Homo sapiens: one gene and its partner. The protein of the gene in region 1 interacts with the protein of each later gene in a pairwise test. Each region holds a gene or a part of one and is shown in the gene's direction. Other genes may lie near its edges.

What was found.
Region 2: the proteins of ROPN1L (region 1) and AKAP7 interact in a two-hybrid assay, tested with the Homo sapiens proteins (one large-scale study listed by BioGRID).

The regions. Positions count from the first base shown.
Region 1 is NC_000005.10:10,458,827-10,462,470, forward strand, and holds part of ROPN1L (ropporin-1-like protein), read left to right. Parts: intron 1-2,357; coding exon 2,358-2,533; intron 2,534-2,539; exon of another isoform or gene 2,540-3,644. UniProt on the Homo sapiens protein: Functions as part of axonemal radial spoke complexes that play an important part in the motility of sperm and cilia. Important for male fertility.
Region 2 is NC_000006.12:131,169,867-131,173,686, forward strand, and holds part of AKAP7 (A-kinase anchoring protein 7), read left to right. Parts: intron 1-3,820. UniProt on the Homo sapiens protein: Probably targets cAMP-dependent protein kinase (PKA) to the cellular membrane or cytoskeletal structures.

The DNA.
Region 1 (3,644 bases):
TACACCATCCCCCCGTATGCCCCATCCCCCCGTGTACACCATCCCCCCGTGTACACCATCCCCTCGTGTACACCATCCGCCTGTATGCCCCATCCCCCCACCGTGTACACCATCCCGCCCGTGTACACCACCCCACCTGTATACACCACCCCGCCTGTATACCCCATCTCGCCCATGCTCCCAAGTCTCCTCCGTGAGCGCTAGGCCTACTAAGTAGCCACCTGAGTCACCAGTTCCACTGGGCGCCTGACAGACATGTCAGTGGAAGCCACCCCAAACTCAGCTTCTCTCTGGAACTTTTGCAGCTGTTCAGGCACCAAACATTGGAACCACTTTTCATGGTTCTGTCTCTGCCCACATGCAACCACCAGTGAGTTCTGGTAACTCCACCTTCAGGAGAGGCTGAGTCCGGCCCTTCCCAGGCCCCTGGCTGGATTATTCCAGCAGCCTCCTTGCCAGGTTCCCGCCTTCCACCCTCCTCACCGGGTTCCCGCCTTCCACCCTCATCACTGGGTTCCTGCCTTCCACCCTCATCACTGGGTTCTTGCCTTCCACCCTCATCACTTCTCTTCACACATCGGCAGAAGGACTCCTTAGAAACACTCTACAGTGCTCCGTCTTTGTTTAAAACCCTTTGACACCTTCCCATAGACCCCAGCCAAAGCCCAAGTCCTCCCTGGGTCTGTAAAGACCTCCGTGATCTGCCCCCACCCCATCCCGCTGACCTCATTTCCCGCATCCCTGCCTCTCCATGGCCTGCTCTAGCTACCTGGAGCTCCTGGCTGTTTCTGGAGCACACAGAAGTGCCCCTGGAATTCTCCCAGCATCCCACATGACTGGCTCCTTCCCCCTGGGTCTGTGCTTACATGCTCCCTGCTCTGACCGTCCCTGACCACCCGATTGAAAATGTCATCCTCCACCCCGGCACTGCCTGCCTGCTGCTCCAGGCACGCCCTCTTCCAGAGCACCCTAGAATCCAGGTGTTGTGGCTCTCCCACTTGACTGTGATCTCCACATGAGCAGGCGTTAGGTGTCTGTTCACTGCTACATCCTGGTGTGTAACAGGCACTTGGCAAACGTGGAGGGAATGAAGGGCTGTTGCCATGTGTGTGTGTTGGCGAGGGGGGTTACGTTTAAGCAGCCACCTGTGTGAGCTCACCTTCATCAGTAGGCAGCGTGACCATCCAGGCAGGTATGAGATAGCCACTCTGGCAAGGACGGCCTTCACAGAAGGGACTCGAGGTGGGGACTGAGGGGAGGGTCCCATAGGCCAGCTGCGGAATTAGGACACCTGCCCCCACAGCTTACCCTGGCCAGGGTGTTGAAGGCTGCAGGTCATGATGTCTTGGTGCAGAAGGAGAAAAGGAGACCTGGGCTATGTGTTCTCTTTTGAAAAGATAGTAATCTTATGTTACATGGTTCTCCCACCTTCTTGAAACAAACACACAAACAGCTCATGTTTTTTCAACAAGGATGAATTGAGCAAGTTGGAGGTGGGAGGCCATGGGCTGGCCCTGGGGAGCCCTGGTGCCCAGGCCCTGCAGTTCCAGCGCCATGCAGCCTCTGGTCTCATGAAGACGACCTTGGCCTGTTAGCTGCCCCCCACCCCCGCAGGGACTTGGCTGGGAGGGCAGGTGCTAAAAGTGTCTGCCGTGTGGAGGCAGGAAGGCTGCTCAGAGGATGGGCTTTCCCGCTGAAAGCAGAGGGTGGGCTGCTGTCTGGGATGAGCCCAGCAGTTTGGAAGAGTGTGAGGGAGATGAACGGTCTCAGGGAGGAAGTCCGGTTGCTGTTCTGGAGCTGAGACAGAGCCCAGAGCCTTCTGTGTGAACAGGGAGAGAGCCAGGACAGAGCCCGGACAGAGCCCTCCCTTCTGCTCGGTGGGCAGGCATTGGCAGACACCCAGGGCTTCCTTGTAGGCATGCAGGCCGTTGGCTGCCAGCCCTGCCCTCTGCAGGCAGCACCTCTGGCTGGTGGCAGAGTTCATTCAGCCCCTGGGCACGTCCCCGGGTGTGTCTCCGGGCCAGATGGGGCTGCACAGTTCTGCATTAGCTTAGGAAGTTGGTTTTCAAGACATTGATGCTTCCTTTTGTCTGTAACAGTCATTTCTATTTTAATAGAAAATAAGATCTGTGAATTAGAATTTTTTCCTGGTCAATTGCACCCCATTCGAACCTTTCCTTTTCATTTTTCATTATGGCAATTGTACATTCACCTAGTTCTCAGTTCAGATGGAGCACATACTTTTTGGAGAATTTCTGTCAAATATGCTAGAGTGTTGATTCTGCTGATGCCTGCTTTCAATGTGAGTGATGCCAGGAGTAACTGTTTTTCTCCCCACCTGGCTGTGGTGCTCCCAGTCCTTGAACACTGCGCTGAAGCACCTGTGCGAGATCCTCACGGACGATCCGGAGGGCGGGCCCGCTCGCATCCCCTTCAAGACGTTTTCCTACGTTTACCGCTACTTGGCCAGATTAGACTCAGATGTGTCTCCCTTGGAGACGGAATCCTACCTTGCCTCTCTAAAGGAAAATATGTAAGTATGCACCCTCTCTAGGATTCAGGTATGTTGACCATGGGAGAATTTCCTGTTTCACTTCCCCCTTGTAGGGAAAAACTCAGTTTTTCCTTTGCTCTCTCACCACAACAATAATCAACACAGAAGACTGCTATGATCAAATGTGTGGAGGTTTTTCCTCACCAAAAAGCAAGCAAGTGGTCCTGCAGCAGACACCAGCTGTGCATTCTCATTCCGTCTCTACCCTGTCTACCTGGAGATAGCCTGAGATCCCACAGGTTGAGGGTTCAGTCCCCAAGACTGCCCCCACCCTGCCCCATTTCTGATGCTAGTTGCAAGCCCCAGGTTATTTTGCCTGTGCTTCTGACCGACTGGCTCTAAATCAGGGTTCCCACAACCCCTCCTTGGGTCAATTAATTTGCTAGAATGGTTCACAGAACTCAGGGAAACACTCATGTTTACTATTTGATTACAAAGGATATTTTAAAGGCTACCAACAGTCAGAGGAAGACAGACAAAGGGCAAGGTCTGGAAGGGTCTGGAGCATGGGGGCTTTTGCCCCCATGGAGTTGAGGTACATCCCCTCCCTGCCCGCAAATGAGCTCTTGTTCACCTTCCTGTTGGTCTCGATGTGTTTAGCTTCCGGGAAACTTTCTAAGCCCTGTCCTTTTAGGGTTTCTTTTTCCTGGAAGCTTTGTGATTGATTAAATCATTGGCCAATAGTGATCACCTAAGCCATCAGCCCCTCTCCCCACCTCCAAGGTTGGGCTGGGCTGAAAGTCCCACCCCTCTAATCCTGCCTTGGGCTCTCCAGTGACCAGCCCCATCCTGAAGCTACCTGGGCCATCAGCCAATCACAAGCATAAAGAAAGAACTCACTTTGGAGATTCCACAGATTTTACTTGTATGCCAGGAGCGGGGGTTGAAGACCAAATATATATTTCACAATATCACATCCCTTGTCTGCAATAACTTTGTCCCAACGAATCCCGTGTTTGGCAGAAGGTTTAGGCACACCTGATAGTATTCAGGGTGTGTGTAAGTGGAGCCGCAGATCAAAGGCCATCAGCGAAAGCAAGCAGCACCTCAGAAGGGAGCCCGACCTCTCCCGTGGCTCCCACCCATGTGG
Region 2 (3,820 bases), on another chromosome or scaffold:
TCAATAATCCTTGGTTCATAACACACTTGCATTATTGGTCTATGCTTGGTCCACTTTTATCTGTGTTTTTTTTTCTTTCTATCTATTATTCCTTCTTTGCTTTTCTTTCTCTGCCCCCTCTTTCCTCTCTTCTTGCTTCCATCCCTCCTTCTCTTTGTGTATCTACGTTTCTCTCTCTATCTCTTAAAAAGCAATGTAATAATAACCTGGGAATGGTGGGAATTGAACAATGAGAACACATGGACACAGGAAGGGGAACATCACACTCTGGGGACTGTTGTGGGGTGGGGGGAGGGGGGAGGGATAGCATTGGGAGATATACCTAATGCTAGATGACGAGTTAGTGGGTGCAGCGCACCAGCATGTCACATGTATACATATGTAACTAACCTGCACATTGTGCACATGTACCCTAAAACTTAAAGTATAATTTAAAAAAAAAAGAAAAAAAAAAGAAACAATCATCTATAGGAATGAATAGAGCAGAATCTGGAAAAAAAGAAAAAAAAAATAATAACCTAGGAATCTACCACCCCAAACAGAAGCTAGTGCTTTGGTAGTAATCTAACCGTATTGTCCTTTCAGTAATGCATCCTTTGGCCTTCCTCCAATTAAGTTCACTGTCATCCTGAAGTCAGTGTTTACTTCCTTTTATTTTCCCAAAGTATATGTATTTTCATTTTAGTTGGTTTTAACTTAATAAAAAGGGCATCTTGTTGTATGTGATCTATTGGGACATCCTTTTCACTTAATATTACATTGCCTCTTTGCAGTTTAATAATTGCCCATTTAAAAGTGTACATTTGGCAGGGAGTGAGGATCAGGTTTCATTGTTGGTTTTTCTTTTGTGTTCTTAAGATATTTGTGATAAATATTTTTGTGAATGTCAGTGTTTATATAGGGCTGGATTATCATACAGATTAATTGTTAGAATGACATTTAGCATAGTGTCAGTTGTGCTGTCTAGTATATGGTTTAAGTTCGCTGAGTTCATTATCCATTCAGATGTATCAGAAGTAGAGCTGTTTAGTTATCTTTATAGTAGAAGATTTCTGTTATGTACTTGAAATACGTTTTACATAACAGCATTTCAATTGGGTTGCAAATGTGAAATTCACTATTGCTGTTATTAGTGACACAGCCGCATTCATTTTAGCAAAGGTTTTTATAAATTTATTACCTCTAAATTTCATTTCTTCTACATAATGTTGGGCCCAAGGAATTATACTTGAGTAGGAAGAATTCATTCCTTTAGCATGCAATTAGCCAGTGCCAACTAGTACTTGGGATAGAAAACTGGAAAAAAAAAAGATCCTTTTCCTTTAAGGAGCATATAGCCTTGTGCAGAAACAAACAGGCAAGCAATTACAGTGCAATATAATAATAACAATAATTTTTGTAGCTAGAGGCAGAGGCACAGAGTATAGCAGGCACATAGGAAGGAGAAGGGGGCGGATTGAGGAAGATTTCATAGGAGAAATAGCGTTTGAGTTGACATTTGAAGGGTAAATACAGGTTTTCTGGTTGGACAAATTGGAGGAGTGTATCCTGGGTAGAGGGAACAGCATATGCAAATAAATCAAGTCCTATTTAGGGGCCTACAAGTAGTTTAGTGTTACTGAAGTATAAATTGCAAATCTAGAGATACCATCAAATGAGATTCGTATGCTAAAGGGAGCAGTGAAGGTAAAATAAGGGCATGAGGAGAGCGGTGAAAGTTTAGAATGGCGACCAAGGGAAATGGAAGGGGAAAGTTTAATAAGCAGCATGTAATGGGGTTGCAGAGCAATGCAGAAGCTGCATTTGGGATGAGTGCAGAAATTTGTAATGGTACTAATCTGTGATCTTCTCAAGTACTATGTAGGATTTAGCTGTGAGAATGGAGAGGGGAAACTGAATTAATCCATACTGGAGCACTTGTATGGTAGGTGTGGTAAAAAGACAAAGGAGCCAGACTGTCAAGAGAGTGGTAGAATGTTTGATGTGATCATTATTGGACGTACATTAGAAAAGGCAGTGAAGTCTGGATGGGACTAATATTTGGAAGGAGAATAGAGTAATAGGGCTGAAGATTAGAGTTAGTAGAAGTTCAAGAGTGAGACAGGAAAATTAGGAGGTGTGATCAGAGAGCAGTATATTGGATTTTATGAATTGAGGAGATTTCTGGTTCATAGAGAGTATGAAGAAACTTTGTTCGTTGACGTCACAAAGAAAAACAAATGATAGCTAGAAGTTTTAAAATCGAGAGAAAGACAAATTATTAGGTTGCATAGGAGAAACTTATAGCTTCAGTGAAGTCCCTAGGTACATGATCAGTATACAAAAACCTATAAATAATTAAAGTATTTTTTAAGAGGCACAATTTTTAATAACAAGAACAGTAGAGACATGTAGGAATAAATCAACTAAAGGATATGCAAGACTTCTATGGAGGAAATATTTTGGCTATTACATCTTTACTAGGTATGTTTATCATAACATTTTTCCCCTTTCCTTTTTTAAAGACAGAGTCTTGCTCTGTCACCCAGGCTGGAGTGCAGTGGTGCAATCATGACTCACTGCAGCCTTGAGCCTCCTAGGCTCAAGCGATCCTCCTGCCTCAGCTACAGGTGTGTGCCACCATGGCCAGCTAATTTTTTTTTTAAGAGTTGGAGTCTCACTATGTTGCCCAGACTGGTCTTGAACTCTTGGCCTCAAGCAGTTGTCCCACCTTAGCCTCATAAAGTGTTGGGATTACAGGCATGAGCCACTGTGCCCAGCCCCTCCTTTCTTTTTCTATTTGTTGCAAGAGCGTCTATTCCTCTCACTGAGAAATACATTTCTAGACTAAGCCAGACCATCAAAAAAATTGTATAGGTACTTAGACAAAATCATGTAAAACTTTGTAGAATTGATATTACAGAATTGCTTTTACTATAATTCTTTTGGCATTATTTGATGATTTTCTAAGAAACAGGTTTATGGAAATTCTCTGTGTTTATTTTAAGTATTACAAATGTTGATTATATCTTGTTAAATAACATGAGTTGATTAGAAAAAATTCTTTTTGGCTGGGTGCGGCGGCTCATGCCAGTAATCCCAGCACTTTGGGAGGCCGAGGTGGGCAGATCGTGAGGTCAGGAGTGGCCAGTACTGGAGACCAGCCTGGCCAATATGGTGAAACCCCGTCTCTATTAAAAATACAAAAAATTAGCAGGGTGTGATGGGACCTGTAGTCCCAGCTACTCAAGAGGCCGAGGCAGGAGAATCACTTGAACCCGGGAGGCGGAGGTTGCAGTGAGCCGAGATCGTGCCACTGCACTCCAGCCTAGGTGACAGAGCGAGACTCCATCTCAAAAAAAAAAAAAAAAGAAAAAAGAAAAAATTCTTTTTAATTTTAATATCAGGACTATTTCTCTTGAACATGTTGTTTTTTACCTAATGAATGTTGAACATTTAACTTGTGTCTTTGGGTTAGAATTGGTTACTTGAACACTTAGAATCCAGTTTATTGCATACTTCAATTTAGAATATAGGACATAATGCTATTCTTTTTGTGCACTTACCTCATACCTGGCTTCATGTTATCTTTCCAGTTTTAGTTTCTGTTTGTCTCATTTTCTTTATTTTAAATTTACTTATTATAGTGTATACTTCTTTGGAGTTATCTTAAATCCTATTTTTAGGGATAGGGTGAAGCAAAACATGTAAGCAAGCATGCAAACAAATAAGCAATATTTACAAGTCAAGGAGTACTTAAAATCATTAGTAGGCCAATGAGAAGGCAACTCTAATTGTTCTGAGGGCAAATCATCTGGGACCAATGCCCACAGTTAATCTT